2 separate regions of the Homo sapiens genome follow, and region 2 is linked to region 1. The links come from fine-mapping of genetic effects on gene expression. A gene starts in region 1. The other region holds a variant in brackets. All regions are shown on one strand. Distances are from middle to middle.

Region 1 (14,728 bases):
TTTTAAAATAAAATTGTTATAAATACTGTCTTTCAAAATATTAGTTTTGAGTTGTATTACAGATTAGTCCTAGCCTAGAGCAGACCTATGAGAGAATATAGCACAGATAAACAGATTCTACCATCATCTCCTTCCATTGATTTCAGCCATTTGCTCCCTCACCAGTAATCTACTTATTATTACCACTGAAATCTTTTTTTTTTTTAAGATAGGACCTCAACTCTGTTGCCCAGGTTGGCATGCAGTTGTACCATCATGGCTCACTGCAGCCTCGACCTCCTGGACTCAGGTGATCCTCCCACCTCAGCCTCCTGGGTAGCTGGTAGTACAGGTACACACCACCATGCCCAGCTAATTTTTTGTGTTTTTTGTAGAGATGAGGTTTTGCCATATTGCCCAGGCTGGTCTTGAACCCCTGGGCTCAAGCAATCCACCAGCCTAGGCCTCCCATAGTGCCAGGGTTACAGGCATGAGCCATCACACCCGGTCACCACTGAAATCTTAGACTCTCAAGCTTTTCATTTTCTGGCTCAGTCACTCTGTCTTCCTGTAAACTAGATCCAGGTTTTCATCCATTCACTTATTGACCAAGAATTTATTGAGCACCAGCTTTGAATGAGGCAATGAATTAGGCCTAGAAATTCAAAGGTAAAAATAATGGAGATTCCTTGTCTTTAAGGCGCTTACAGTCCGTTGCCCTCCTCTTCTGTCCCCTCCCCAATTCAGAAAAAAGTGGACAAGCAATTATATATAACACCCATGATCAGTGTTATAATCCAAGTAGCTATTGGGTGTGTCTAGACACTCTTAGGAGGCACTCTAGGGAAACTTTGCAGAGAATTTGTTGTAGGATGTATTAGTTTGTTATTGCTGCTATAACAAATGACCACAAATTTAGTGGATTAAAGGAACACAAATTTATTATCCTACAGTTCTGCAGATCAAAAGCCCAACATGGGGTTCACTGGGCTAAAATCAAGTATCTGCAGGGTCATGTTCCTTCCTGGAGGCTCTAGGGCAGGATCTGTTTTTTGACCTTTCCAGTTTCTAGAGGCCATTCACCCCCTCCAGCTCAGGACCTCCATGCTTCAACTTTCAAGCCAGCAATGTTGCATTTTTCCAACCAGTCTTGCGTCATCACATCTCTCCCTGACTTCGGCTAGGAAAGGTTTGCAGCTTTTAAGGACTGACGTAATTAGATTGGGCCCACCTGGATAATCCAGGCTAATCTTCCACTCCCAAGGGCCTTAACTTAATCACATCCGTAAAATCCTTTTGCCTTGTAAAATAATGCAGCCATAGGTTCCAGGGATTAGGAAGTGGACATTTCCTCCTTTGGGAGGCCATTATTCTGCCTACCATGTAGAGAGACAGCTGCATAAAAGGAAGCGGGTAGAGGTGGGGATTGGAGGTAGGAGGCCCTTTCCAGGAAACCATGTGGAAGGGCCGTTAGGTGAGAATATTGTGCATTCTAGGAACTGTAGGGAGTTTCGTAAGGCCCAAGTATGAAGTTTACATTGGAATGTGGGAGGCTATTCATTCAATACATATTTATTGAATACTATGTGGTGGGTGCAGTTTGGGAGATGCAGGGATGCACAAGACAAAGTCCTTGTTCTCTGAGGCTAGAATGAAAAGCAAGGGCTGACTGTGAGAGAATTCAGAGTTTCCTTAGGAGATTGGACTTTAAGAGTTAGAGAAAGTCATGCATTAATTCATCTGCCAAAAATTTTGTGAGCACAAGTGCCAGGCATTGTTCTAGGCTCTGAGAATACAGATGTTTAAAAACCAAAGTCAAAAAATGCCATGTCCTACATGTTAGTTGATTTTAAGCAGGAGAAGCAGATGTTTGCTTTGGAAACATCACCCTGGCTGGGTTACTTGAGAAAAGATTGGAAGGGGAATAAGATTAGAGGTAGCTCAGTCCCTTTCCTCCCGCTTCTTGAAGATTCACAGCCTTTGCTGAGCTTCACTTCCGTCCTTGAGGACTTCCTCTTTTGTCAGGAGCCCTCTTTTCCTTTTATGCCTCTACTGTACCTATCTTGGAAACCTGACCTCATGTTCTACACCTGGGCTTCCAAGTGCTGCAGAAGAAAATGATGAAAACATTCGGATGTTTTTATTCATAGCCACAACATATTAGAGTATCCAATGCCAGCTGTATCTTCAACTCTGCTGACAATTCTCTCTCTCTCTCCTCTCTCTGGAGCTACCACTCTCATTCCTTATTCCTTTCTATTTTAACCTTAACCACTTTTTTTTTTTGAGATGGAGTTTCACTCTTGTTGCCCAGCCTGGAGTACAATGGCGCGATCTCGGCTCACCGCAACCTCTGCCTCCCTGGTTCAAGCGATTCTCCTGCCTTAGCTTCCCGAGTAGCTGGTATTACAGGCATGCGCCACCACGCCCAGCTATTTTTGTATCTTTAGTAGAGACGGGGTTTCTCCATGTTGGTCAGGCTAGTCTGGAACTCCCGACCTTAGGTGATGCGTCCACCTCGGCCTCCCAAAGTTCTGGGATTATAGGCGTGAGCCACCGTGCCCAGCAACCTTAACCACTTTCTTTAAGCCTTTAACCTCATCTTGAGCCTTTCTCTCTCAGCAGATTGCTTAGAGACTACAAGGCAGCAACTAGTCCTCTCAACATCTAGTCTCAAGTTCTAGTCTCTTTACCAGTCTACAGATGCCTCTGCTTTTGTACAGCCTTCCTCTCAAAGATATCAGAGGCAGCTCCACCCCATATACCTGGGTCCCAACTCCCTCCTATTCATGATCTCGCTCTCCTTGGTCTTACTCTTCAGCATATGAAAATGCTTAAGCCTTTCTTATCCTAAAAAGAAAAAACAAAAGTCTCCCCTTTGATCCTGCATTCCCCTCTACCCACTGCCTTATATTTCTCCTTGTCTTAAATTGCCAAGCTTCTAGAAAAAGCATGTGTCTTTTATTCCAGATCCAGGTTCATTCATTCACTTAGTGACCAATAATTTATTGAGCACCAGCTTTGAATCAGGGAATGAATTAGGCCTAGAATCCACTGGAGGCATTTTCTAGCCTACCCTCCTGGAGGTTCCTGCTGCACTGGTTATCCAGTCATTCTCTTCTGAGATTCTCCCACCCTAGTTTCTGACACTCTGTGGCCTCCAGTTTTTCTCTTACCTCTCTGGTTGTTTCTTCTTTCCTCCTTATGCCCATCTGGACGACCTCATACAGGCTTATAACTTCACTGACTACCCATAACCTACAGAATCCAAAGCTGCTATCACTTGTTCACACCCCAATATGAGTTTAGTTTCATAAGTTTGCTGTCTACTAGACATCCCCATCTAGACATTCCACAGATACCTCAAACCCAACATGTTCAAAATTAAGCTCAAGATCCCTCTGCCAACACCTGGGCCCTGTCTTTCTAATTGTCCCTAACTTAGGGAATGGTACCACCTGCCAACAATTTCTAAGGCTTCAAATGGGGAGTAATTCCAGAGTCCTCCTCTTCCCTAATTTCCTACATTTTATATATTTATCAAATACTATTGATTTCTCTTTATAAGTATCTTTTGTATCTGCTCCGTTTTTTTCATCCCCACTGCCACAGCTCTGGCACAGTTTTGAGATTCCCTGATTTCCCACCTGGAACGTAGCCATGGTTTCTCTGTTGAGCTCCCAGGCTGCACTCCTGACTTGTGTTACTAGGTCCTGGCAGAAAGCAAATGGCACACTGCACTTGAGGGGTAATTTGAGGAGAGGTTAAAAAATAAGGGGACAATTTATAAAGGGTCGGCGGAGTACAGGAAAACCACAAGAAATAGTGTACAATCTACTAGGGCCAGTAGCAAATCAATGTTTCCACCCCCAGGCCCGAAAAGTCAAAGGAGGGGAGTGATTACCTGAATCAAGAGAGAGGGAGGGGGCTGGCACTGTGGCTCACGCCTGTAATCCCAGCACTTTGGGAGGCTGAGGAGGGTGGATCATGAGGTCAGGAGATTGAGACCATCCTGGCTAACAAAGTGAAACCCTGTCTCTACTAAAAATACAAAAAAAATTTGGCCGGGCATGGTGGCATGCGCCTGTAGTCCCAGCTACTCAGGAGGCTGAGGCAGGAGAATCGCTTGCACCCGGGAGGCAGAGGTTGCAGTAAGCCACTGCACTCCAGCCTGGGCAATAGAGTGAGACTCGGTCTCAAGAAAAAGAAAAAAAGAAAAACAAAAGAGAGAGGGAGGGGAGAGAGAACCACCCGTGGAAGCTGTGATCTTTGGTTGAGGGTGGCAGCCAGCGCACTGTGACCCCAAAGAGAGGAATCCTGAAGAATAAATATCCAGTTTCCCCTGACCTCCCTCCTTATTCAATCTTCAGCCATGGCCCCCATTGGCCAACCCAGTCTAGGAAGCCAGAGGGCCAGGAAGATCTGGAGGGGCAAACGGAAGACATGCAGTGCATCTTCCAAATCCTTCTCTATAATATGCCAGGAAGTCTTTTTCTGGTCACACTACTTCCCAGTTCCATTTGTGCACAGCAGGTTCTCTGTCACCTACAGCACCTAAACTTTTTGGCATGCCCTGGTTTCTCTTTATTCAATTTTTTCCTTACCAAAATGCATGATAAAGCCTGTGATCTGATCCTCCACTCAGCTACCTATGCCTACTTCCTGTTAGTTCTTTCCTTCAGACTTTTCACCCCAGCAGCATAGAACCACCAGTGGTCGCCGGGCGCGGTGGCTCACGCCTGTAATCCCAGCACTTTGGGAGGCCGAGGTGGGTGGAACACAAGGTCAGGAGATCGAGACCATCCTGGCTAACACGGTGAAACCCTGTCTCTACTAAAAATACAAAAAAAAAAAAAAAAAAAAAGAAAAAATTAGCTGGGCATAGTGGCGGGCGCCTGTAGTCCCAGCTACTCCGGAGGCTGGGCCAGAAGAATGGCGTGAACCCGGGAGGCAGAGCTTGCAGCGAGCCGAGATCACGCCACTGCACTCCAGCCTGGGCGACAGAGCAAGACTCCGTCTCAAAAAAAAAAAAAAAAAAAAGAACCACCAGTGGCCCCTGTAACACTCTGTTCTCTCAGGCTCCTGAGCTTGACCTGATGACAGACACAGAGTAAGCTGTCATAAATATTTGTATGGTGAAGAAGTGCACGGACACGTTTTTTAACCCCTGTGGCTCCTGAGATCAGGAGTAGCATCATATACATTATGACATATGTGCAGACCAAGCTGCCTTCAGTTAATTATCAAGATGTTTCACCTACATTCTCTCCTTTGATCATTACGAAAGCGTGATAGGTGAGGACGCTATTCTTGATATTCAGAGGGTGAAGTGGAATACTGAAAGTCACAAGCATTGGGTACAGAAGGCACTGTAGGATCAGAAAGGGGAGTGATCCCTTTCCTCCCCATCATAAGAGTCACAGCCGACACTTCTATAACAAAAGACAAGTTAACCAGAGAAAAGCATAACAAATTTATTTAATCATGGTTTTACTTGAGAGGCTGAGGACCAGGTGTTAATCTTCATAGTCTGTCGAGAAAGAAAGAAGAAATGAGGGCAGTGGAGGAAAACACGATTCACGTTTTTAGGAAAATATACTTTGAGATTAGTGATCGTTGGTACTATGCAAACCAAATGCAAACGAGGAGCTGGCCAACTCATGGTTTCTTTTGGGTGGAGCCTTTAGGAAAATTCTTCCAGAGACCACTGCTGGAAGAAAGGTATTTAGAGTAGAAAATTTAAATATAACATATTGTATGAAAGGTTTTTTTTTTTTACTTTTTTTTCTCACTACCCTAGTTGGGTTGGAGGATCCTCTATCTCCCCTCCCTACTTAGGTTGACTGCTGTTTCCTGGATCGCAGCTCGGAAGATCCACCTGGGCGAATACAAAAACAAACGAGACTCCCCTTCCAGAAAGGGAGGAAGGAAGGAGACAGAAAGACGAATGACACTGAGCGTGTAAAGCCCGGAGACAGCCTCTCTCTACCCCAACCTAACCCTCAAGGTAGGGGATCCCCCGAACATCGCTACCGTAATTATGGTAGAAATTCCTGAAACGGATAACTGGACCTCAGCACCGTCATTTCTAGCAGAATGATTGAGCTTTCCTCTGACCCAAAGCCAAGGGGTTCCAGCAGGGGAAACTAACGACCATCCGCAAAAACCCTCACCCAAGTGGGGAGTGGAAATCCTGGCTCTTGGGTTGCAGAGCACAACTTGACGCCAGCGCGTTTCTCTTCCCCCACGCAATGGCAAGTGGGGCGGGAGTCGGAGGGGAGAGGAGGAGAGGAGAAGAGAAGAGGAGGGGGAAGGGGAGGGGAGAGGCGAAGGGCGGCCCGGGTTCCAGCAGCCGCCCCGCCCTCCGGCTCGCGGCGGATTCGGCGCTGCGGCTGGAGCCGGCGGCCGGGTGCCTGCCTGTCCAGGCAGGGTCTGGCCGAGCGTCGCGTCGCCGTGCAGTGCGCCGGGTGTCCGGGAGATGGCTTCCCCTCTCTCGCCCGCTGCTGCCGCTATTGTCTCACCCGGGGTGGCCTGACTCTGCGAGCTCGCGCACGCTCTCGGCGGAGAGCACCCCTCCCCACCCCCACAAGCTGGTCCTTGCGCCCTTTGCTGCCTCTCCCTCTGCCCCTTGGAGCCTAGGGTCTGTGCGGAGCCTGGAGAGGGGAGCGGCCCGGGAGCAGGCGGCGTGCGGCCGGCCAGCTCCTCTCGCGCTGGTGCAAGAGGCGCCTGGAGCCGCAGAGCGAGCCCGGGAGGCGCGGAGCGAGCAGCCCACGTCGCCAGGCACAAGACACGTCGGATGTTGCAGCAGAGCCAGCAGCTAGCGCAGGTAGGACACGCATCCTGCGGGTTGCATCGGCCCCAGCGTCTGTAAAGTGCCCCCAGAGTGGAGGCAGCCGAGGTCAGGGGGCTCTCCCTCCAACATGGCAACAGCGGAGGTGCAACAATGGAAGCAGCCGAGGGTTCCTGGCGGCGGGCTGAGCGGCGGACGCCGTGGGAGCCTGAGCTCCTGCCCGCCGGGCAGAGCAGGTTGCCCCTCACCCCACTCCACTCCACTCCAGCAGCTTCAGGGCCTCTGGGGCTCCAGGCACCCGCGTCCCCACCCCCTTCTCGCTAAACACACTTCCTGGCTCCCAGCTGCAGGGCGATCTGAACCAGTCAATGGCTTTGGGGTTTGTTTATTTAAGATAAGAAATAAAAAAAGCAAAACCTGTCCTGTGATGGGGTTAGTGCCTTCTGTGGACTGGGTGAGAAGTCGGCATCTAGCCTGGGGAATGTGTACGTTTCTTAGTCGGGCGGAGGGTAGAATTGGATTCTCCCTTATAAGGATACTGCAGCAAAAGGAGACTGAAAGCTTGAAAGAGGGAGAGGGACCCTCAGGCCTGAGTTCGCCGGTGCTGGGAGAAGGCGCTGCTCTCCTGGCCTATACTTGTCCCTCATTTTCAGCTCCCGACAGCGGTGACTTTGATGTTGGAGGAGCAATCGCAGCAGGAAGCACAAGCAAGGCTGCCAAGCTGGTGTGGGGTGGAGTAGGGTGGGGAGCCCAGGGGCTTGGCAGGCTTCTGGATTGTGGGAAGAGGTTACCAAATGTATGAGGTTAGTGCACACACCCTAGTTGGCTGATGTTGAAGTGTGTGTGTGTGTGTGTGTGTGTGTGTGTTTTCTGCCATTGCTCTTGCTCCTTCAGGCCTGCCTTTTCTCCTCTCCACCCGCTTCTGGGGTCTTCGTAGCTTCCCTGCCCCAGCCCTTCCAATCATGCCTGGGATGGAATCGCTGTATTGTCTCTGGCAGCTCTCTTGGGCTGTTTTTTCTCAACTCTGTTGGAGAGTTTTGTACCCTGGGCTGGCTGGTCCCAGCATGGCACCAGATTCTTTAGCAGGCGGCTACCCGGGCTCCAAGAAGTGGGCCAATGCTGCCCCTCCTCCTTGCTCTAAACTACCTATTTGGGATATGGCCAGGCAGATGTAAGCAATTTGTACTAAATTCCAACCCTGAATCAGTGCTGAATGAAAACTTACTCTGTTGCTGCATCAGGCTTTGGGAAGATATTAGGAAGAGAAATGGCCCAGGAGGTGGCAATGCCGACCCCCAAATACTTCCCTCTCCCCAACTCCAGCTGCCGATCCCAGAGCAGACAGGCAGTGAGACTTTGGAATCCCAGCTCCTCCAGAGTCTGGCTGGCCCATCTTGAGGTTGTGTCCATGGAAAAATTAAGTCGAGGCACATTTTATAGCTCTGCTTGGCAGCCAGCATCTGAAGAGATGGTGGCTCTGAGCTGGAGCCCTAGACCCAGGCTGTGGCTGCTTCTCCTTTGGCCTTTGGGTGAGCCTGAGGTTTGATTGCCATGGCTCTGAGCTTACTGCTGAGTGTGTATGGCTGAATCTGATCAAGCTCTCAGACCCGGCTGCTTGTCTATTTCCTTCTCCACTGGAAGCATGAGTGAGAAAGGGCCAAGGGGGTGTGCTGGGTGAGGAAGGGTCAGTTTATCTGGGGACTTGGGCTGTTTCTGGGGGAGCTCCTTTGGACTTCCTTGGTGGTCTGGAATGCCTTTGGTCTTTGTCATGACCTAGTATGCTCTGGCAGATACTCTATACCCTCGTGGGCCTTTGGTCCCCGCTTGGTGGTGTCCCCACTCCTCCTGTGCCTGGTGCTTTGCATCTATATCATGTCTGTGGTGCTTCAGCTGGGATGGCCCTGGCCTGGACCAGTGGGTAGAAAAATGAGGTCTCTGTTCCTTTTAGGGGCTTGTAACTAGCTATAAGGTTCAGGCTCCTCATGTTCCCAGGATGTGAACTTGGACATCATAATGTGAAGTAGTAGAGAAAACAGTGTCTTGGTGTGACTTTCTTTTTAGCTATGTGAGCACAGACAATTTGTGGACCTAAGATTTAGTTTGTATATTTGTAAAATGGAGGTGGGGGAGTAGCCATGGCTCACAGGATTAATAATGAAATGCTGCTTACCAAGAACTAAACAGAATCATGTGTGCAAAAGTACCCTGAAAACTACAGAGTACTTTACAAATGATTATTCTTACTGGGTTTAGCCTCCCACATAAGGGAGGGAGATCTGTGAGGGATGGGGATAGGGTGGGATCTGAGGGCCACATGGAGTAGGGAATGTTTTGGGACCTTTTCTTTCTTGCTAAGGAAAGAGTAGTGTGACAATACCAAGGTAACTGCTGTATTCCTTGGGTATTTTTCTTTAAATAGTGTTGGCAGGATGGGAACTGGGAGAGAAGGAAAGGATGCCTCATGATATTTGTAGGAATTGAGGAGGGATAAACACCTTCCAAAGGCTGGCTACTGCCTATAGAGAGGATAATGCTGAGCTGGCAAGTAATGTAATCACTAACACTCACTGATGTCAGCCAGCTAGTAAATGATAGAGGTGGGATTTGAAGCAAGCAGTCTCACTCCTTACCCTGTGTTCATAGCCTCAGTGCTACTCAGAGAGATATTGGGTCTTGGGAGAACAGAAAGGGACAGCAAAATTGTGGAGTTCATTCTTTTTGTTTGTTCTTGAGACAGGGTCTCTCCCTGTTGCCTAGGCTGGAGTGCAGTGGGCTCAAGTGATCCTTCGACCTCAGTCCCCACCCTGAGTAGCTTGGACTATAGGCATGCACCACTACATGTGGCTAATTTTTTAAGTTTTTGTAGAGATGGGGTCTCAGTATGTTGCCCAGGCTGGTCTCAAACTCCTGGCCTCAAAGGAACCTCCTGCCTTGGCCTCCCAAAGGGTTAGGATTATAGGCATGAGCCACTATGTCCAGCCTCAGAATTCATTTTTTTTTTTTGAGACAGAGTCTCACCCTGTCACCCAGACTGGAGTGCAGTGGTGTCATCTCAGCTCCCTGCAACCTCCGTCTCCCAGGTTCAAGGGATTCTTGTGCTTCAGCCTCCCGAGTAGCTGGGATTATAGGCGTGTGCCACCATGCCTGGCTAATTTTTTGTATTTTTAGTAGAGACAGGGTTTCACCATGTTGGCCAGGCTGGTCTCGAACTCCTGACCTCAGGTGATCCACCTGCCTCAGCCTCCCAAAGGGCCAGGATTACAGGTGTGAGTCACCATGTCCAGCCTCAGAATTCATTCTTAATGGATTCCTTGAATGCCCATGAGACGTCACCAGCCTGGGACATCTCATGGGCATGTAGGCATAATAAATTTTTCTGGGCCTCATCTGCTTTTCTATGCATTTTTATTTCTATGTCTACCTTCCAAGGAAGGAAGAGATGTGGGATAATCTGATCAAGTCATATTGCTGCCTTCTGAGCAACACTAATAGAAGGTTTGGGACTTGGAGGATCCTGGGGAAATTAAGGCAGATTTCTTGTTTTGGTATTTTCATATCTGCTTTATTTTGCATCTGTTTTATAAAATGAAACTTGAGGGACTATTCTTGCCTTTTTTTTTTTTCTTTTTCTGTTGAGACAGGATTTCACTATGTTGCCTAGACTGATCTCGAACTTCTGGTCTCAAGTGATCCTCCCACCTCGGCCTCCCAAAGTGTTGGGATTACGGGCATGAGCCACCTCTCCCAGCTTGTTCTTGCATTTTGTAAGATCACATAGAGTATCAAAACTGGAAAGGACCTGGGCCATCACTTCCCTGAGAAAAAGTGACTTTCTCAAGGTCATGCAGTTAGTAGCAATGCTGGAACTGAACGCCTACCCCGCAGATCACAACATGACCCGTGAAAGGACCTATCCTGCAACACTTTGGAGTTTCGTGCCGACCCAATTAGTGGCTTTGTCTTTGGGAAATTTACTTCCCCAAAACACTGGGACATTGGGATGGAATTCACTCACCCCAAATCATCACCCTGGTTAAGGAGACTAAAGAATCAGAAGACATTTGTGCTTTGGGGAGCAGAGGCCCTCAGGGTATAGAGAAGGAAGAAGAGAGAGGTTCACTGTAGTCCTGAAGCAGAAATAAGACCTGTGGCTGAAGGAAGCCTTAGCAATTCACTCCTTCCTCTTCCTGAGAACTCTCTGTAGGAAGTCTCACCTAGCAGAGGCTTCACAGTATTTCAGAGAAGCCAAAGATTGTTTGCCTCTTTGGAAACTGTTATCCTTCCATCATGACTGTGTCACTCCTGCCACTGTTCCACCATAGAGGTGGGTGCCTAATATTAGAGAGTTGTTTCACACACGTGGCTCATTCCTCAAGCCTCGCTAAGCCAAGCCCACCAGGAAGAAGCTTGAGTGGAAGCATTCTCTCCAGCCACATCTTTCTCTCTTTCTCTCATACTAGATGGCGTCCTTTGCAGCAAACCGTAAGTTATAAGGATGAGGGAAGAAGAGTAGAGGGCCAAAAGGATTCCATTTTGAGGAAAAACTACAGTTTGCCTTGCCAGGTAGAAGAATCAGGTATGAGTTCTTTTTGTCTCAGGTAATAAACTAAGCAAAGCCCAGATAGTAGTAATGATGGAGCCCTTCAACTATTGACGTCTCCCTAAGAGCCCTCATTTTCTGAAAGCAGAGTGTTTGTCCCATTCCTGACTCGCCATGCTGTGTGTCTCCCAGAGAGTGAAAGAAATTGCTGTGACTGCGAGCACCAGTAGAGTGGATTTAATTCTCACCAAGAAAAGGGAGGTGGTTTGCAAATGGGTTGTTTTGGGATCCTGGGAGAGGAACATTGTAGCCAGAGATATTAGATTTTCACTCTAGACTTTAAGGAGGCAGATTTTTTTTTTTTTTTAAATTAAAAGATAGGGGCCAGGAATAGTGGCTTATGCTGTAATCTCAGCACTTGGGAGACTGACATGGGATGATCACTTGAGCCAAGGAGTTTGAGACCAGCCTGGGCAACATAGCAAGACCTTGTCTCTACTAAAAATAAAAATAAAAACAATTAGGGTGTGATGGCGCACACTTGTGGTCTCAGCTACTCAGGAGGCTGAAGTGGGAGGATCTTTTGAGCCCAGGAGTTTGAGGCTGCAGTGAGCTATAATTGCACCACTCTGATTGCATCCAGGTTTCACTGTAGCCTGGGTGACAGAGTGAGACCCTGTCTCTGAAAATAATAATAATAATAAAGAGCTTGTACAATTAACTTGAGAGGAGCCAAAATTTGAGTCTAGGTCAGGAAACCTCTAGAACCTGTGTTCCTTCTGTGCTATGCTGAAGGGGACTGTGAGAAAAAAAATGTTCATGAGGCTCGAGTCCTGAATGAGATGGAGCTTCCCCAAGAGCCAGTAATGACACAAGTGGTTCTTAAAGTCATTTCTGGAAGACAATAGGATCACAAGGGTTTAAGTCTATCAGATCATGTTAAAAAGGAACTCATTCATTTATTCATTAATTTGACTAACATCTTGATTGTTTACTAGTGACTTTAGGTACTTTTAAGTCATTGAGTGGGGGAAATATGGGTTGCCTTGTGAACTCATCAGTGGGGCCTTTTTGATGGTCAGACTTCTTGGAGGAAATTAAGTGTTTGCAGAGATCTGAACAATGAGTAGGAATTGGGGCAGGATGGGGAATGGAGTGTGGTGAATGAGGTGAACTGAAAGCAGTTTAATCTCGCCAGAGCCACTGAAGGAGTTTGCATTTTATCTTTTGGGCATTCATTCCACCATTGTACATTGAATGTGCACTGACACTCTTCTACGTGCACAGCAGTGAAGAGGACAGGTAAAACCCTTGCCTAGTGCTTGGTGTTCTGAGAAAACTTAGTTCACTCATAGTTCTTAGTCCACTAAGAGTAGTTCACTAAGAATTAAACCAAGCTTTTTAATGTTACTGACAGGAATTCTATACTGATAGATAGGGAATTACTTGGAGAGATTCTCTAGTTGAATGCAAGGAAAGTTTGAGAAGGACTCTCATGATAATCCTATAGATTATACAGGGTAGAGACAAAAGGTGGGTTAATGATTGGTTGATTGTTCATTCAGCAAAAACATCTTCAGTGCCTCTTCTCATTCATTCTTACATTTATTCACTCATTTATCAAATGACTGGCAGTGCAAGTTCGGCAGATGGTTAAGAGCACGGCTTTGGAGCCAGATTACTTGGGTTCAAAGCCTGGCTCCACCACTTACAAGCTGTATGACCTTGGAAAAGTTATTTAACTTATCTGTGCATCACTTTCCTCATACGTAAGATGAGGGAAATAATAATACCAGACAAAATTTGTTGTAAAATGAAATGAGTTAATTAATGAACTACTTAGAGCAGTGCCTGATGCATGTAAATGGTGACTCAACAGCTCATGGTTCTTGTAATTATTATTCCTCAATAGCAGGTTTGTGCTAAATTCTAGGAATACAACCTTGAATTGAGTGTGGTCCCTGACCTTGAGGGAACCACATTGCACCCCCCTCCCACCCAAAATGCAGGTAAATGGATGAGTTTCTTCATGGAGTGGGGTAATCCTATAAGCTCAATATGAATCGATTGTGATAAGGTGCCCCAAGAGTTATATATATACAGTCTTAGGCAGCATTTCCCAGCGTCTTAATATATAGTCTTAGGCAGCATTTCCTAGAGATTATAGAAACTAGAACTGTGGTGTTTATTATTTTGGAGATCTCTAAACTTAAGAATCTGATAAATGCTGTGGGGTGTCTACTTGGAAAAATACATTACAATTTTGCCTTCAAACAGCCTCCAAACCTCTGATCCTATGATGAGGAGCTGTTAACTCTTCTCCTCTGGGTTGGTCAGACCACGCTGAGAACACAGTATTAACAGTTCTGTACTGGAGCATGTACTTCGTGTAAAACATTGTGCTAAGTATCCTGGGGGAGACAAAGATAAATACGAGGTAATCCATGCGGTTTAAAGGCTTAGTGGAAAAGAATGTTTTGTATGTAATGAGATGTTTGTAGATACATGTTGAAATGATAAAAGTAAGAATGTTCATCTTGAGCAATGGAACGAGATTTATCTATACAAAAATTTAAAAATTAGCCAGACATGGTGGTGTGCACCTGTAGTCCTAGCTACTTGAGAGGCTGAGGTGGGAGGATCACTTGACCTGGGGAGTTTGAGGTTACAGTAAGCTATGATTGCACCACTGCACTCCAGCCTGGGCAACAGAGTGAAACCCTGTCTCTTTAAAAAACAAACATAGAGGCTGGGCGCAGTGGCTCACGCCTGTACCAGCACTTTGGGAGGCTGAGAAGGGTGAATCACCTGAGGTCAGGAGTTCAAGACCAGCCTGGCTAACATAATGAAACCCTGTCTCTACTGAAAATACAAAGATTAACTGGGCCTGGTGGCATGTGCCTGTAATCCCAGCTACTCTGGAGGCTGAGGCAGGATAATTGCTTGAATCCAGGAGGTGGAGATTGCAGTGAGCGGAGATTGTGCCACTGAACTCCAGCCTGGGCAGCAGAGCGAGACTCCATCTCAAAAACAAACAAAAAACCAAACAAAAAATGAAGGATGTTACTTAAAAGTTGTGTTGGTAACTGTGTTAATAAATAAATAAGAGGTAATCTTTTTTTGAGATGGAATCTCCCTCAGTCGTCCAGGCTGGAGTGCAATGGCGCAATCTCGGGTCATTGCAACCTCTGTCCTCCAGGATCAGGCGATTCTCCCACCTCTGCCTCCCAAGTAGCTGGGATTACAGGCACCTGCCTTCATGCCCGGCTACTTTTTGTATTTTTGTAGAGATGAGGTTTCACCATGTTGGCCAGGCCAGTCTTGAACTCCCTACCTCAGGTGATCCATCTGCCTCAGCCTCCCAAAATGCTGGAATTACAGGCATGAGCCACCGTGCCCAGCCATCTTTATTCGTTTTT
Region 2 (14,728 bases), 36 kb after region 1:
AGCATGGAAAGCTTTGTCATTTTAGAACTATTTGTACTGTTCAATGGTGGGAAACATTTTGCAATTATAAGAGAAGTGTCAAGAAGGGGGTTTCTCAGAGCTGCTACCCCACTGCCCCCATCCTGGCCTGCAAATTTGGAGGGCTGGGCTGAGTGGGGACAGAGGGGCTCTTGAGCCTCAGAGCATGAGGTTCCCAACAGATGTCTTCTTGACTACTCTCTTCTAAAGGCACAGTGAGGGTTTTTTTTCTTCCTGTACAGCCTTCGATCTGGCTCTGACATCCAAGACTACTTCCTCACTGGCTATGTCTGGAGTGCTGTCACCCCTAGCCCAGAGCACCTCGGGGATGAGGTCAACCTGAAGGTGACTGTGTTGTGTGACAGGCTTCAAGAGGCACTCACTTTCACCTGCAACTGTAAGTTAGTGAGGGGGGAGAGGATGTGAGCATCCCTTGAAGTGGGGTGGGGATGACTGTGTTTTGACTCGATTTCCACCTCATCTTGTGGCCCAGATGAAGGGCAGTGAGGATGCTCCTTTGGGGGTGAGGGGCTGGCTATGGGGCCAGCATTCTAGTACAGTCACTTTCCTCAACTCTGAACTACTTGCCTGCTTTATCTGGTTGGTGATGGTGCTGGAGAATACTTAGCTGGAAAGGGGGATCAGGGTGGGGAAACTGAGACCCATCTGCCTTGACATCCATCATGATTGCTCCCCCTACCTTACCCTTCACAGGTTCCTCCACTGTAGACTTGCTTATCTACCAGACCCTGTGCTACACCCATGATGACCTGAGGAATGTGGACGTGGGTGACTTTGTGCTAAAGCCCTGCGGGCTGGAGGAGTTCCTGCAGAAGTGAGTGAATGGGTGGGAGGTAGCCCCTGCCTTCCTGGTAGTAAGATTGTGAGGGGGCTTCATGGGATTGGTGCTGGGACCGGCCTGGCAGCTCCGCCCCAATCCCACAGTCAAGACTCCTGCTTTCTGGGCACACTCTCGGCCACGTAGCACTTTCCCCAGGAGCTCTGTCTTCCAGCAGGGTTGGCTGACGTCCTGAGCCAAGTCTGCTGTGGAAAGAGCTTGGAGCTGGGATTAGGCAAAGACTAGGTCATATCTGCTTGCAGATTCTGCTTATGGAGAGATGTGTGTATTTGTGGGGAGGGGTGGGCTTGGGGAGACTATATGGGTAGTGCTGTATCTCCTGCTCTAGATTATGTGTGGTGTTTTTATGGCTGGGGCAAAATGAGGACTGGGCAGAAGTTCCCTTGTGGAGCCCAGGGGAGAAATTACAATTACTGTCTCTCCCCATTCTCCTGCCAACAAGTCTTTTCCCCAGCTGGCCCGTGCAGCTAGTTATCCTCCTCCCAAAGGCGTGCCTCCAGCTCCTCTCCATCCAGTGCCCTCTCTGGAAAGCAGCCTCCCTGGAAAGTCTGATGTGGACCAGCTGAGGCAACCCCCTTTCCACTACCCTGGGCTCTGGAGGGCTGCAGTGGAAGAGAGGCAGGGGCAAGGTTATCACTTCTCAGATGGTACAGCTGTGTGACAGCAGACAGATAAGATCTGCTTTCCTCTCTTAGGCTTCAGAGCCGCTCCTGCCCCCAGTCTCTGTCCACTTGGAGGAAGCACGTTTTGGGAATAGAGAAAGGAGAGACCTGTGTCTCACTTCTTAGGAGTGCCCTATAAGTGCCACTGCTTGCTTTTTCTCTCTCTTACATTCAGGTCTAGATGCAAGGATGGTTGATCTATGTCTAGAGCATAAGATTTGGCAGTCAGGATGGAAGATTCATTTCTGGACTTCTTTCTTTTTTTGAGACAGAGTCTCACTCTGTCGTGCAGGCTGGAGTGCTGTGGCGCCATCTCACTCAGCTCACTGCAACCTCCGTCTCCCAGGCTCAAGCGATTCTCATGCCTCAGCCTCCTGAGTAGCTGGGATTACAGGCATAAGCACCACCACGCCCGGCTAATTTTTGTATTTTTTAATAGAGACTGGGTTTCACCATGTTGGCCAGGCTGGTCTCGAACTCCTGACCTCGGGTGATCTGCCCGCCTTGGCCTCCCAAAGTGCTGGGATTACAGGTGTGAGCCACTGTGCCCAGCTATCTGGGCTTATTTCAAATTTAAGGATATTGTGGGGTCCTTTCTGGCCTCTGCCTCCTCATCTCGAAGCTAAGGGAAAGGAAAGAGGCAGGGTTCTGTATGGTACAACTCCAGGGTACCCTTCAAATGTGCCCCACCTTTAAACTCACTTATGTACACACTTTTCCCCTAGAGGAACAGGAGGGGTCCTAGACTCAGGGTTGCCTGGCAGAGAGAGTGCCAGGTGGCCTGCCACTGTTAGAAGGGAAAAAGGGGACATAGTGGATAAGTTGGAGCTCCTGCTGACGCCATTACACAGGTTTGAATTCGGACTTGCCACTTACTAGTTGTGAAGGCTGATTGATGCTCAGGGCCCTCTGTAAGCTGCAGTGAGGGTGAAATGTGAGAATGACCTGTGAGCAATCAGTAAATACCAGCAGGGAAGGAGCAGCCCACGGAGAGAAGTCCTAGGGCTCTGGGCTGCACAGATACTGCCATTTCCCTTGCAGCACCCCAAATCCTGGAGCCCCTGGGTCCGGAGGTAGTGGGAGCTGTCAAGTTCTACCTTCCTGCTAAGACTCAGGTGAAATATTCTTAGTGAGGTGGGACAGGGTCAGCGGTCCTCAGATCACACCCCTCATACTCTCACTTGAATGCACAGAGAGGAAGGCCTTCCACAGAGAAGATCAAGCAAGTCCCCAGGGGACCTGTGTGCATGACTCCTGGCCTAGGAGCCCCACTCCCACCCAACAGAAAAGCACAATGCTGTCTCCTGGCCCAGCCCCCAGACCCCCAACACATGACAACTGCCTGGGATGGGGGTGGAAAGGACGCTCCGGGGGTTCCAGAAATCTGCTAGTTCCCAAGGAAGCCCTGAGATTTTCTACCCCTGCCTGGCAGGAGGGGCTGATACTGAGGGGGTGAGTGGGTTCAGGATGCAGGCTGCTCTCAGATAAGAACCTTGAGGCAGTCCCGTGGGAGGGTTGGGTTTCCTGCCACCTCCCCCAGCCCCACCACACTCTTCCTTCCTCCCAGGCTCTCCCACCAGGCCCAGCCCCACAGCCCAGCCTCACCACCTCCAGGTTTTGGCTGCACTTCAGTCTTAGATCTGAGAGGGTCTAGATCGGAGATTTGGTCCTCTCAGGATGTGGAGAACCCCTCACTCGAGCCCTCATGGGACCTAGACGACCCTGGGCCCTGCACCTCCGCCAGCTTTTACATATACTGCCCCCCTTATGCTCCTGTCCTCTCCTCTCCATTTCTGGCCTAGATTCCCAGCTCTGCTGAGGAAGGAAGTCCTTTTCCGGCTTCTGTTACCCAGCTGCTGAGGCCAGGCCCAGGCCTGCAGTGCTGGCCTGGAGGTAGTTCTCCCTCTGCCCCTCCTCTTGGGTTTCCTTGCTGTTGAAGGTGTGATTTGGGAGAGAGGAAGAGGTTGGATCGCCGAGGGCTCCTAGGCCTTCTCTCTGAAAGGGGGAGTCTCACACATGGGTGCTTGAGCAGGTGGGACTGGCATGCATTTGGGACTTTTCAAGAAGTCATAGAAATTTGTAAGGTTATTCACAAGCAGGCAGGGCCAACAGATGGAAGGCAGAAAAAGAAGTTGGGTGGGGACACTGATCTGGAGGCTTGGTAGGCTTGCCCCAAGTTTTTTTGGCCTCAGCACCCTAGTTGGTAGCATTGGAAGAGGGGTCTCTCGCTGAGCTCCCACCCTGGAGCCTGAGCACAGGTGGACTCCAACATGTCTCTTCCTGGTTGTCCCCTATACAGAGGCCCAGAAGATAGGGCTTCAGCAACTGCTCCCTGTGATGTGCCTCTGTTTCCCCGCTCTCTCCAACAGTTCCCAGCCCTGGAGTGAACCAGTGATTACCACACGGGTAATAAATATCTAAGAGAGTCAATATTTATACCGGCCAAGGATTAAGTATATTAGGTGGCTTTTGTTTAGATAGACCTCTGTTCCTTCTCCTAAGCTCTACCGTGTCATTTTCTAGGAGCCAAAGTAGGGTACAACACGGGTACTACCCCCTTACCTAAACCTTCTTTCTGTATGTCTCTCCCCAAGGCTAAGGTATGTATCTCCCTTGCCACTGAGTCCCCAGGATGCTAATGGTCTTGTCCCTCTACCCTACCAGCAAGCATGCCTTGGGCAGTCATGAGTACATCCAATACTGCCGCAAGTTTGACATTGACATTCGGCTACAGCTGATGGAGCAGAAGGTTGTGCGCAGTGACCTGGCCCGGACGGTTCGTGTGAGGGTGGTGGAGGGTTGCCCAGGGCTGGGGAGGTGGAATGGGAATACAATATAGAACACATCAGGTGGGAGGGGGGTAGGAGTGCTGAGCTGAGATAAGGGCACCGCCCCTCTCTGAATAGGTCACTTCTTATACAGGTGAATGATGACCAGAGCCCCTCCACCTTGAACTACCTCGTCCATCTCCAAGAGAGGCCTGTCAAGCAGACCATCAGCAGGTGAGTGTGGGCACCATCTTGGATGTGCTCCAAACAAGAACTGTGCAGGGATCCCATCAGATGTGCCTGCTTGCCTTTCTGTCAGGGCTAAGGGATTCTTGCAGGTGTCAGGGGTTGGGGCCCACACATCTTATCAGAGAAGATCCCCACTCCAGGCATGTTTCATTTCTTCCCTCTGGAACTTTGCCATCATTCTCTCCAGGCGAGAAGTGGCAGAATAGAAAGACTCTCCCTCTATATGTCTTCACAGGACATATAGAAAGAGTGGGAACTCCTTTAAATCAGAGTGTGAGCTGAGGAGAGGGAGGGAGAAAATGGGTTTCCCAGGGCACTGGGTCTTTCATGACCTCTCCTGTGGTTTTTCCCTGCCCCCAACTCCCAGGCAGGCCCTGAGTCTTCTGTTCGACACTTACCACAATGAGGTGGATGCCTTCCTGCTGGCTGATGTGAGTACGAATCCAGGGGCTGGCCCTGCTGCCCGAAAGCTCCTCCTCTCCCCTTCCTCAGTCCTCCTGGGATCACCCAGCACTATGAGGGGTCTGGGTGGAGCCTGAAAATCTGTTGGCAGAGCACTTCTTTTTAACCCCTCGCTCATGGGCAAACTAAGACTACTAGATGTTGGGCAACGGCAAGTGCGTAGTCAGGGATTCTGCTCCTCTATAGAAGAAGCAGGTCGGAAACTGCATGCTGGTCCCATTCTCTGGAATAGGATGTCTCCAGAGCTAAGGAACCTAGAGCTGTCACCCCCCAGCTGCTGCACTTGATGTACACTGGAGCATGCATCCTATGAGCAATGTCAGAAACCTCCAGTTTGAGAGGTTCTGTTTTGCTGTTATCGCAGGTAGGAAACCATCAGGAGGTAGAAGGTTTCACATGTAGGGAGGGCCAGAGCCCTCCCCACTTGGATTCATGCGGAGTCTCAAGCCTCAAAACCATGAGAGTCAACATTTGTCTTAAATGTCACAACGCCAAAGAAAATCTGACAGTGATCTTCAAAAATAATCCCTTGCTGAGTGTGATGGCCCACGCCTGTAATCCTAACCCTTTGGGAAACTGAGGTGGGAGAATTGCTTGAACCCCAAAGTTCAAGGCCAGCCTGGGCAACACAGCAAGACCCCATCTCTACAAAAAATACAAAAGTTAGCCAGGTATGGTGGCACACACCTGTAGCCCCAGCTACTCTGGAGGCTGAGGTGGGAGGATCGCTTGAGCCCAGGAGTTTGGGGCTGTGTAGTGAGCTATGATCACACCATTGCACTCCAGCCTGCGTGACAGAGTGAGACCCTATCTCAAAAAACAAAACAAAAACCAATCCCTGTCTCATTGATCCAGTTAATAGTAGTCATAAACGCTTCCTTTTTGAGGGGTTCAGCATTATGTCTAGTCACTGCCAGAATCCCTTCTCCAGCAGCCTGTGCTTGAACATTTCCAGTGATGCGGGGGAAGCTCTCTGAACACCTGTGCTGTGCTGTTCTGGCCCTTTGCTAGTGGCTACGATGGGTAGAGAAGTGTAAGAATCGTCATAGCCTTGGCCAGGTGCGGTGGCTCACGCCTGTAATCCCAGCACTTTGGGAGGCTGAGGTGGGCGGGTCACCTGAGGTCAGGAGTTCGAGACCAGCCTGGCCAACATGGTGAAGCCCCATCTCTACTAAAAATACAAAAATTAACTGGGTGTGGTTGCAGGCGCCTGTAATCCCAGCTATTCAGGAGGCTGAAGCAAGAGAATTGCTTGAACCCGGGAGGCAGAGGTTGCAGTGAGCCGAGATCGCGCCATTGCACTCTAGCCTGGGTGACAGAGCAAGACTCCGTCTCAAAAAAAAAAAAAAAAATTGTCATAGCCTTTGGGGAGCTTGTGTTCTTGTTAGAAAAATTGAATAGTAACACAAAGCTATTAGTAGACAGAACAGGATGGTAATAAATTAATTAAGGGCTCCTGGAGGATGCTAGAGGAAGGGGATTGGCCAGGGAGGGCTTTATGCAGGAGGTAGAATTTTAGCTGCTCTGTGATTTAAATGTACATAGGTAATCAGAGCTGGACAGGTGAGGGAATTCCAGGAGCATAATTCCAGAGGGGAGGTTATGGCTGTGGCATGTCTGTAGAAATGAGATGAGATCTGTCTGGAAATTCTACAGGTCTCTGGGAGAGACCCTGTATATATGTGTATAGTATAAGTAGACTAACTATAGAGAGAGGCTAGAGATAGGAGGAGCTTCAAGGGGAACGGCTGAAAGAATTGGGGCATGTGGGCATGGCCCATTGAATTCAGTGGGAGAGATTATTTGCTGATGATGAATATTTGAAAATAAAATGTATTGCACATTTACCCCTGAGGATCATGAATCTCTCTACTCTTCCCAACCCTTTCCTTTAAAGACTGGGGTGGGGAGGGGTTGGAGACCAAGAGCATGAGAGCAGAGCCTGCCAGCCTCACTGTGCCACCTCCCACAGGGAGACTTCCCACTGAAGGCTGACAGGGTGGTCCAGTCCGTCAAGGCCATCTGCAACGCCCTGGCCGCCGTGGAAACCCCTGAGATCACCAGTGCTCTCAACCAGCTGCCCCCCTGCCCCTCCCGCATGCAGCCTAAAATTCAGAAGGTAAAGGGGCCCAGGGTGCTAGCAGGGGAAAGGAAGAGAGGGATACTGTCAGGTAACTGAGTTGCCTGTTGCTAGAGTGTGTAGGTGTTCACTCACTAAAAAGGGGCTTCTCTCCACCTCCATCTTTTATGTTTAAGGAATTCAACCGCAAGAGCTCTTCAGAAATGGATGCCAAGTGTGTCTCCTCTTCCTGAGGTTGAGGGAGAGCTACCTGGGACTGCTTGTTGAGAGCCCAGGCCAGTAAAGGCTTTATTCACAGTCACCAAGGCATTGCCTGACAGTCTGCATATCCATCAGGGTGCAAAAACAAACCAGGAGGAAAATCTCTCTAGAGCCAGGGGCTCCAGGACTCCAGCAGGGGCTGTGTGCTCTGCAGACAGGGCCAGCACCATAGGCACTGTGATCTGCAGCCGAGTAGCCTGAGGGTTGGGATATCTCAGAAGGGTGGACCCGATGATTGCTATCCTCCGTCAGCTCACTCTGTCCATCATACAGATCTGGTACAAACCATTACTCTCTCCTCTCTGGGGATTCTCAGCTACTCACATTTCAGCCCATTCTGGTCCAGATGAGCGCAGCTGTGAAAAGCCCTTCTTCCAGCTGTGACGAAAAAGGCTATGGCCCTGAAGCTCCCCTCCCTCTTCTTTTTCCCAACAGGATCCCAGTGTCTTGGCTGTGAGGGAAAACCGAGGTAAGGGAACTGCTCTCCATCTTCATCCAGTCGGGCTGCCGAAAACTGCAGTCTCTGCCCCGATTCCTTTTTCTGCCTGGGCCCCTTGATTTATGTGTCGGAGTTCGGCTGGTGTGTGTGTGTGTGTGGGTGTGTGTGTGTGTGTGTGTGTGTGTGTGTGTGTTCCTATATGAGGTGTGGATACAGCTGGAGAGCACATTTCTTTCCACAAAGTGTTTTCTTATTATTTTTCCTAGTCATTCCTCCTGGTGTCCCTGGGAGATGATGATGAGGGGGTAGAAGTGTGGGAGTGGGGTGGTGGGGCAGCACTAGCCCTGTGATCCAGATGGGAAGCCTCCCACTTGGGTAGATTGTGATTATTCTCCCAACAGCTCACACTTGCTACCTTTCCGATTTAGAGTGGGCCTTGGGAGAGGATGAGAAAGAATTTTCCCTACGATTTTTCTAGGATTCCCCTGTTGTGCCCTTCAAGCTGAACTTTGCCCTAAGACTGACCTATATCCCTGGGATTCCTTTGTTTTGGTTTTGTTTTTTGTTTTGGCATCCCTGGGATTCTTATGGTGATTCCCAGTCTTTTGGATTTCATAGACCAGTAAAATGTCCCCCAAAGTATTTGGGGGACCAAGAGAGAATTGGCAGCCTTTTACTTGGCCAAACTTTTTTGACTTTTGCTTTTTTGAAGCAACTGACAATAATTATTAACACTGTTTCCTAAAAGAAAGGACATTTTAATGCTAAGTAGCAATACGTAAAAATAAGGATTATGTTTAACATTGTATAACTGTCATTTTATGAAAAGCTCATGACATGCTTCTGCTTTTTTCTCATTTTACCGCAGATGGGTGAACTTTGTCACAGCTATTAGAGACTGACTAGCATTTGGGGACCACTGTCTTAGGCCATCCCATTCTAGCCAATGCCATGGCAACAAGGTAGGGCTTGTGGAGGCCTCATGACTTTCCCTTCTGACCCCTTCCCTTCCCAGAGAAGGTCGTGGAAGCCCTGACCGCTGCCATCTTGGACCTGGTGGAGCTGTACTGCAACACATTCAACGCAGACTTCCAGACGGCAGTGCCCGGGAGCCGCAAGCATGACCTGGTCCAGGAGGCCTGCCATTTCGCCAGGTCCCTGGCCTTCACTGTCTATGCCACCCACCGCATCCCCATCATCTGGGCTACCAGGTGAGCCCAGGGCTGAGTAGCCGCTAGGGAGCAAGCTGAGTTTGACCTCCACCAGGGCTTTTTCCTATCTGCATGTAATACCACTGTCCTAAGTCTTAGGATGTGTGGCATTGTGTGACATTGTGGTGCAATGGGGCTGCGGGGGTGAGCCAAGTGCCTGAGGAGGACTTGGGCTGGGGACATCCTAGAGGAGAGAGGAGGTCCCTTAGGAGATGAAGAAGATCCTGTTATTCCCTCTTGGTGCTGGCTGCCTCTGCATCCCTGCCCCCTCCAGATCCAAGACCAGTGGAAGGAGACATGGCAACAGATGGCCGATTCCCAGATAGAGTGCACGCTCCCTGGCCAGTGGGAGGGGGTGGGGAGGTGGGATTGACCCTTTGTCTGGGGTTCTCTAGGCCTGCAGGGGTGGGTGGAGGAGGATGTTCTTTTGGTAAAATCCTCAGCGCCTCTGTTGGGTCCCCAGCATCCAAGGCCTGAGGGAATAGGCACTGGGCCCTACCCCGCCCCTGCCGGTCCCCTTTCCCCAACCCCCTTCCCCTTCTCTCTTTGTTCCTTACTTAATGTATTCCTCTGGGCGATTGGCAGAGAACAAAGGAGGCAGCCTGGGAAACCGGGGCCTTCTCTGACCTCTTCTGTCAGGCACCTGTCATGAGCCACAGGGACCCCCGTGTGTTGGCATTCATGTCGGCATATGTCGTCTTCCTCCCCCACCCTTCTCACTTGCGCATGCACGTGCACGC[G/A]CACACACGCACGCACACACAGACGCTCCATGGGCTGGAGCTTTCTATAAAGAGGCTGGGTGGCCAGTTCCCATTAAAGGAAGAAAAACAACAAGGCTCAGAATGGAGCCTAAAACCGAGCAGAGGAATCTAGATTGAGTTGCTTTGGCCTGAGCACATTTCCTTACATCCAGTTTGGCTGTCCTATCCGGAGATCCTGTGTTACAGCCCTCAGAGACTGAGAGTTTTACCAGGGGAAATGGATTTTGGCCTTAGAGGGACGCATAGGTTTGGGTGATTGGTTTTGGGAGCTGGGTGTCCTGACCTGCTCCCTTTCTTTTATAGCTATGAAGATTTCTACCTCTCCTGCTCCCTCAGCCATGGCGGCAAGGAGCTGTGCAGCCCCCTGCAGACCCGAAGAGCTCACTTCTCCAAGTACCTCTTCCACCTCATCGTCTGGGACCAGCAGTAAGCCCTTCCCCCAGGCTTCAGTGCCCAGGCCACTGTAGACCTGCTCAGCCTCTGAAATATCCCTGGGGCCAGATAACTAGTCCAGGACTAATGATAAAACCAGGCTCCTTGTTAACCCTAACTGGACAAGTCATTCAACCTCTTGAGTCTCCACTTCCCTGACTCTTTTTTTTTTTTTTTTTTTGAGAGGCAGCCTCGCTTTGTTGCCCAAGCTGGAGTGCAGTGGTGCGATCTCGGCTCACTGCAAGCTCTGCCTCCTGGGTTCACGCCATTCTTCTGTCTCAGCCTCCCGAGTAGCTGGGACTACAGGCGCCCGCCACCACGCCCAGCTAATTTTTTGTATTTTTAGCAGAGATGGGGTTTCCATGTGTTAGCTAGGATAGTCTCGATCTCCTGACCTCGTGATCTGCCCGCCTCGGCCTCCCAGAGTGCTGGGATTACAGGCGTGAGCCACCACGCCTGGCCTCCACTTCCCTGACTCTTAAAGGAGCCAAGTATAATTACCACTTCTCAAGTTGTCATGAGGATCCAATGAGAAGTATCTATAAAGGCTCTTTGTAAACCATAAAAAACATATAAATTTTAGTTGTTGACCAGGCGCGGTGGCTTACGCTTGTAATCCCAGCGCTTTGGGAGGCCGAGGCGGGCGGATCACCTGAGGCAGGGAGTTCAAGACCAGCCTGACCAACATGGAGAAACCTCGTCTCTACTAAAAAAAATACAAAATAGCCGGGCATGGTGGCGCATGCCTGTAATCCCAGCTACTAGGGAGGCTGAGGCAGGAGAATCGCTTGAACCCGGGAGGTGGAGGTTGTAGTGAGCTGAGATCGTGCCATTGCACTCCAGCCTGGGCAACAAGAGCGAAATTCTGTCTCAAAAAAAAAAAAATTAAATGTTAGTTGTTAATTTTAATAATACTTTATTTTTTGATCTTGTCTCCCTTAAAGAGTTTAACTAGTTGGAGGGCTTCTCATCCTCTCCCTTCTTCCCTCAGTTCCTGTAGACTATGGAGAGGAGACTGTGCTTTTCCCTTTATATATAGAGAAGGGAGGGTTGTCTAGAGAAAGAATATTGAGCTTGGATTCCCAGGAGTGAGCCTCTATTTCTAGCTCTGTCTCGAATACTACTTTCTCTCTATTCTTTCTGTGCCTCATTTTTTCAAACTGAGAAATGGGGACATTGGTTTCACTCAGAGGCAGTTATGGCGTCGAGATGAGATAGGTGGGTTATAAATATAAATATGAAACCAAAAGCACAAGGTAATATTAATCACCACATGTAAACAATAATTTGGTGTCGGGAAGGTAGGCGTCAGCCAAGCAAAGCAGGAAGGAAACGGAGGAGAGGGTGCCTTGCTTGAATGGGGGCACCGCAGGGGTTTTCCTGCCCTGTGCTTCATCTGTGCTATGCTCTACCTTCCTTCCAGTCAGTCAGAAAATCCCCTGTTTGCTGCCCCCGGCTTTGCTTCCCCACACTGACTATATTAGAGTCCTCATTTGCAGAGCAGCACTGCAAGCTAAGTATTTGTAGCACAGATTAAAGAGACTGAGGAGGGTCCTGGGGAGGCCGAGGATGCAAAATAGGTAGATGAAGAATCTGGAGATGCTGGAAGAGGTGGGTCCTTTTACAGATGGACAACTGGGAAAATGGACCCTTTCTCATGCCCTTCACACTTAGGTAATTCTTAGAGCAATAAAGGTGTATATGGCTGGGCACGATGGCTCACACCTGTAGTCTCACCGTACTTTGGGAGGACAAGGCGGGATAATCACTTGAGATCAGGAATTTGAGACCAGCCTGGGCAACACAAAGAGGCCTTATCTCTACTAAAAAATTATTTTAAATGAGCTGAGTGTGGTGGCGTGCATCTGTAGTCCTAGCTACTTAAGAGGCTGAGGTGGGAGAGTCACTTGAGCCTGGGAGGTCGAGGCTGCAGTGAGCCATGATCACACCACTGCACTATAGCCTGGGCAACAGAGTGAGACCCTATCTTAAAAAAAAAAAAAAAAAAAAAGGACATGGGGTGTGCATTAAAGGTCCTCAAGCAAACAACTGCCAGGACAGGAGAAACTCCTTGCAGGCAGAGGATAGCTGCATTAAATGGCCCTTGAGTTCCACCATTCCCTTGGGATTTTTTGGTCACAATTACTGCTGCTGTCAAGAGAAGGGGTGCCAGCCTGGGCAACAAGGGAGACCCAATCTCTACAAAAAATACAAAAAATTAGCCAAGTGTGGTGGCATACACCTGTGGTTCCAGCTACTTAGGAGGCTGAGGTGGGAGAATCACTTGAGCCTGGGAGGTCAAGGCTGCAGTGAGTATCCAGCCTCGGCAACAGAGCGAGACCCTGTCTCAAAAAAAAAAAAAAAAAAAAAAAAAGGGTGCTGCACAGTGTTCTGGCCCAGGAGGAACTTTAAAAAATTGGCCTTAAACCCTTTACTCATACAGTATCAGAGGTAGAGAGGCAGCCCAGCCTGCCCCATGAGTTTCATTTTGTTCCCTGAGATCCCCACCTTGAATTTTAAAGGGGCAGTCCCCTGCCTAGCGCCTTGTGAAGGGCACTATCTTGCACTGTCCATCCAGAAGCCCCGAATGAGACTTCTTGGCCCTTCATGGTCAAGACCAGGACATTTGGGGGAAGGCGTGCCAGCGTTCAGAGGACAGTCTTTGGGCCAGTCATTCTCTCCTTCCTACTGTAGTTGCAGCCTGGGGCAGGTCTTTCAACCTAGAATGGTAGCGATAATAGGGCCTACCCTACAGGATTGTTTGAGGAGCAGTTAGGACACTGTAAATAAAGTACTTGGCACAGGCTTCTTAGCTGGGGAGCCCTCTTGGTTTTGGTTTCTCTGTTCCAAGTGACTGACAGACTGGCTGATACATGGGGATACGTGCGCATGAAAATACTATCTGTATAAGCCAGTGCCAGTGCAGTAACCACAGCATCACATAGCAAAAAGTACACAGTCTGCACACACATCATGCAAGTGAAGCTATGTTCCCCTTTTCCCTGATGAGAAACTGAGGCACAGAGATGGGAATTAAGTTGCCCAGGATTGTGAGTGGCAGAACCGGGACTGGAGCCAACCAGCACATTCCAGGAATCCTTCCTGGAGGAGGCAGCCTGTGTGATATGAGGTTGTTGAATGGGCTGCAGGAAGGAGAGGGGCTTCTCAGGGAGGAAGGTAAGGGCTGCAGCCAACATAATGGTTATCCTGACCAGCCCTGGGTGAAGATCTGTGGGAGAGGTTGTGGAATACCAGATATACCCAAGGACTGAAGGGAAGAGGGCCTTGGCTGGCTCTGGTTTCACTCATAAAGTCTTCTCACTCCCCTTTTCCTTAAGACACGAAGCTGGAAGCTTCTTCCTTGGGTGAAAAGAAAGGGCTCAGGACCAGCTCCCTCTCCCCTTTGCTATGGGGTCAGCTGATTCTCTGCCCCACTGTAGCGGTCCAGGGATCAGCTAACTCTCAAAATAGGCTCAGCAGCCGTGCTTTGTCACCTCCAGCCAAGCCCTGGCCTGGCATGTCTGCTGGCTGCTGGAGGGGCCCTAATTATAGCTGTGGGCCCCCAGGGTAGAGGCAGCTGGGACAGAGCAGGGCTCTGCCAGTCTGTGGTGGGCTGGAGGGAGTGCCTCACTTAGGTGGAGATTCCTCTGGAGGACAGCGGTGGAGGCAGGCTGCTTTATCATGAAACTGCCAACCTTGGGGGTGGCCGCCCTGCCTCTGCGCCCTCTGGCATAGAAGTTGCTGGGCCCTGGGCTGGCCAGGAGGGTGTGACAGTATGGACTTTGGCCCAGGGACAGCTTCCCCGAAAGGTAACGTGGGTCCTCCCTGCCTTTCCACAGCTCCCCTCCCCTGTGTACTTCACCCCACCCAGCAGTTCCTTATCCTGAGCTTAGAGGGAGTGGCTAGGTGTGATTCAGACTGAGGGACCTGGAGAGAACTTATGGGCTTGAATAGTGGTGGGGCTTATGTGTCTCAGTTCTCTTGGCCCTGCCATTGGCTTTCTCACCACTGGGGTACTTGGAGAAACCCCTCCTCTTTGTCCCTTTGGCTTTGAAGCTGTTTGGGGGTGGGGGTGAGAAAAACCCAGTGTGTGTCCCTGGGGCTAGGTGAAGGGGACTCCTATGAGGACAAGTGAGAGGGCTGTGGGGGAGGGTGAACCGAGGGCAGAGAACATGGTGCTTCTTCCTGGTGGCTCTCAGCAGCAAGAAGTGGGGGAGGGATGGAGACTGTCAAATGGAAAAGGAGGACAAAAGGAGTAGCTTTGCGGACCCTCTGCGGAAATCCTAAAACAAGGAAAGGAGCAAGGCTGACAACATGGGACGTGTCATCACCTGAACTCCGAGGTGGCTCTGCTAAGCAAGTTCTGTCCAGGCACCACGGGTAGCTTCAAAATCGGGATGTTCGCCTCACTCTACTGCAAAGCTCCAAGGACACCACATTGTGCTTCTGGGAACATCCAGTGGGGGTTTTGCCTAGTTTGGGACCTCTCCTGGTTCTGCAGGAGGAGGGCTTCCTCAGGGAGTATG

Evidence for each region.
Region 2: its variant is fine-mapped to the expression of PIK3C2B in whole blood (TOPMed, PIP above 0.99).

Annotation. Positions count from the first base shown.
Region 1 is chr1:204,486,433-204,501,160 of GRCh38, reverse strand. PIK3C2B (phosphatidylinositol-4-phosphate 3-kinase catalytic subunit type 2 beta) reads left to right here and starts at 6,356. Exons shown (of 33, transcript NM_001377334.1): 1 at 6,356-6,805. It overlaps LOC124904584 (translation initiation factor IF-2), which reads right to left and starts at 9,410. Exons shown (of 2, transcript XM_047439554.1): 1 at 9,400-9,410; 2 at 5,429-6,985. The coding sequence starts at 9,410. The coding sequence ends at 5,965. RefSeq lists silencers at 6,207-6,676, 8,236-8,315 and enhancers at 6,777-6,906, 6,977-7,166.
Region 2 is chr1:204,450,137-204,464,864 of GRCh38, reverse strand. PIK3C2B (phosphatidylinositol-4-phosphate 3-kinase catalytic subunit type 2 beta) reads left to right here. Exons shown (of 33, transcript NM_001377334.1): 4 at 261-415; 5 at 733-853; 6 at 4,204-4,315; 7 at 4,462-4,541; 8 at 4,924-4,987; 9 at 6,991-7,137; 10 at 7,795-7,828; 11 at 8,814-9,009; 12 at 10,074-10,196. Among named protein-coding and RNA genes, the nearest start is that of PIK3C2B, 37 kb to the left of the region's middle. RefSeq lists silencers at 2,370-2,664, 7,478-7,678 and enhancers at 6,549-7,048, 7,049-7,550, 9,058-10,035, 11,628-11,737. The variant G/A (reference allele first, on the strand shown) is at 9,750.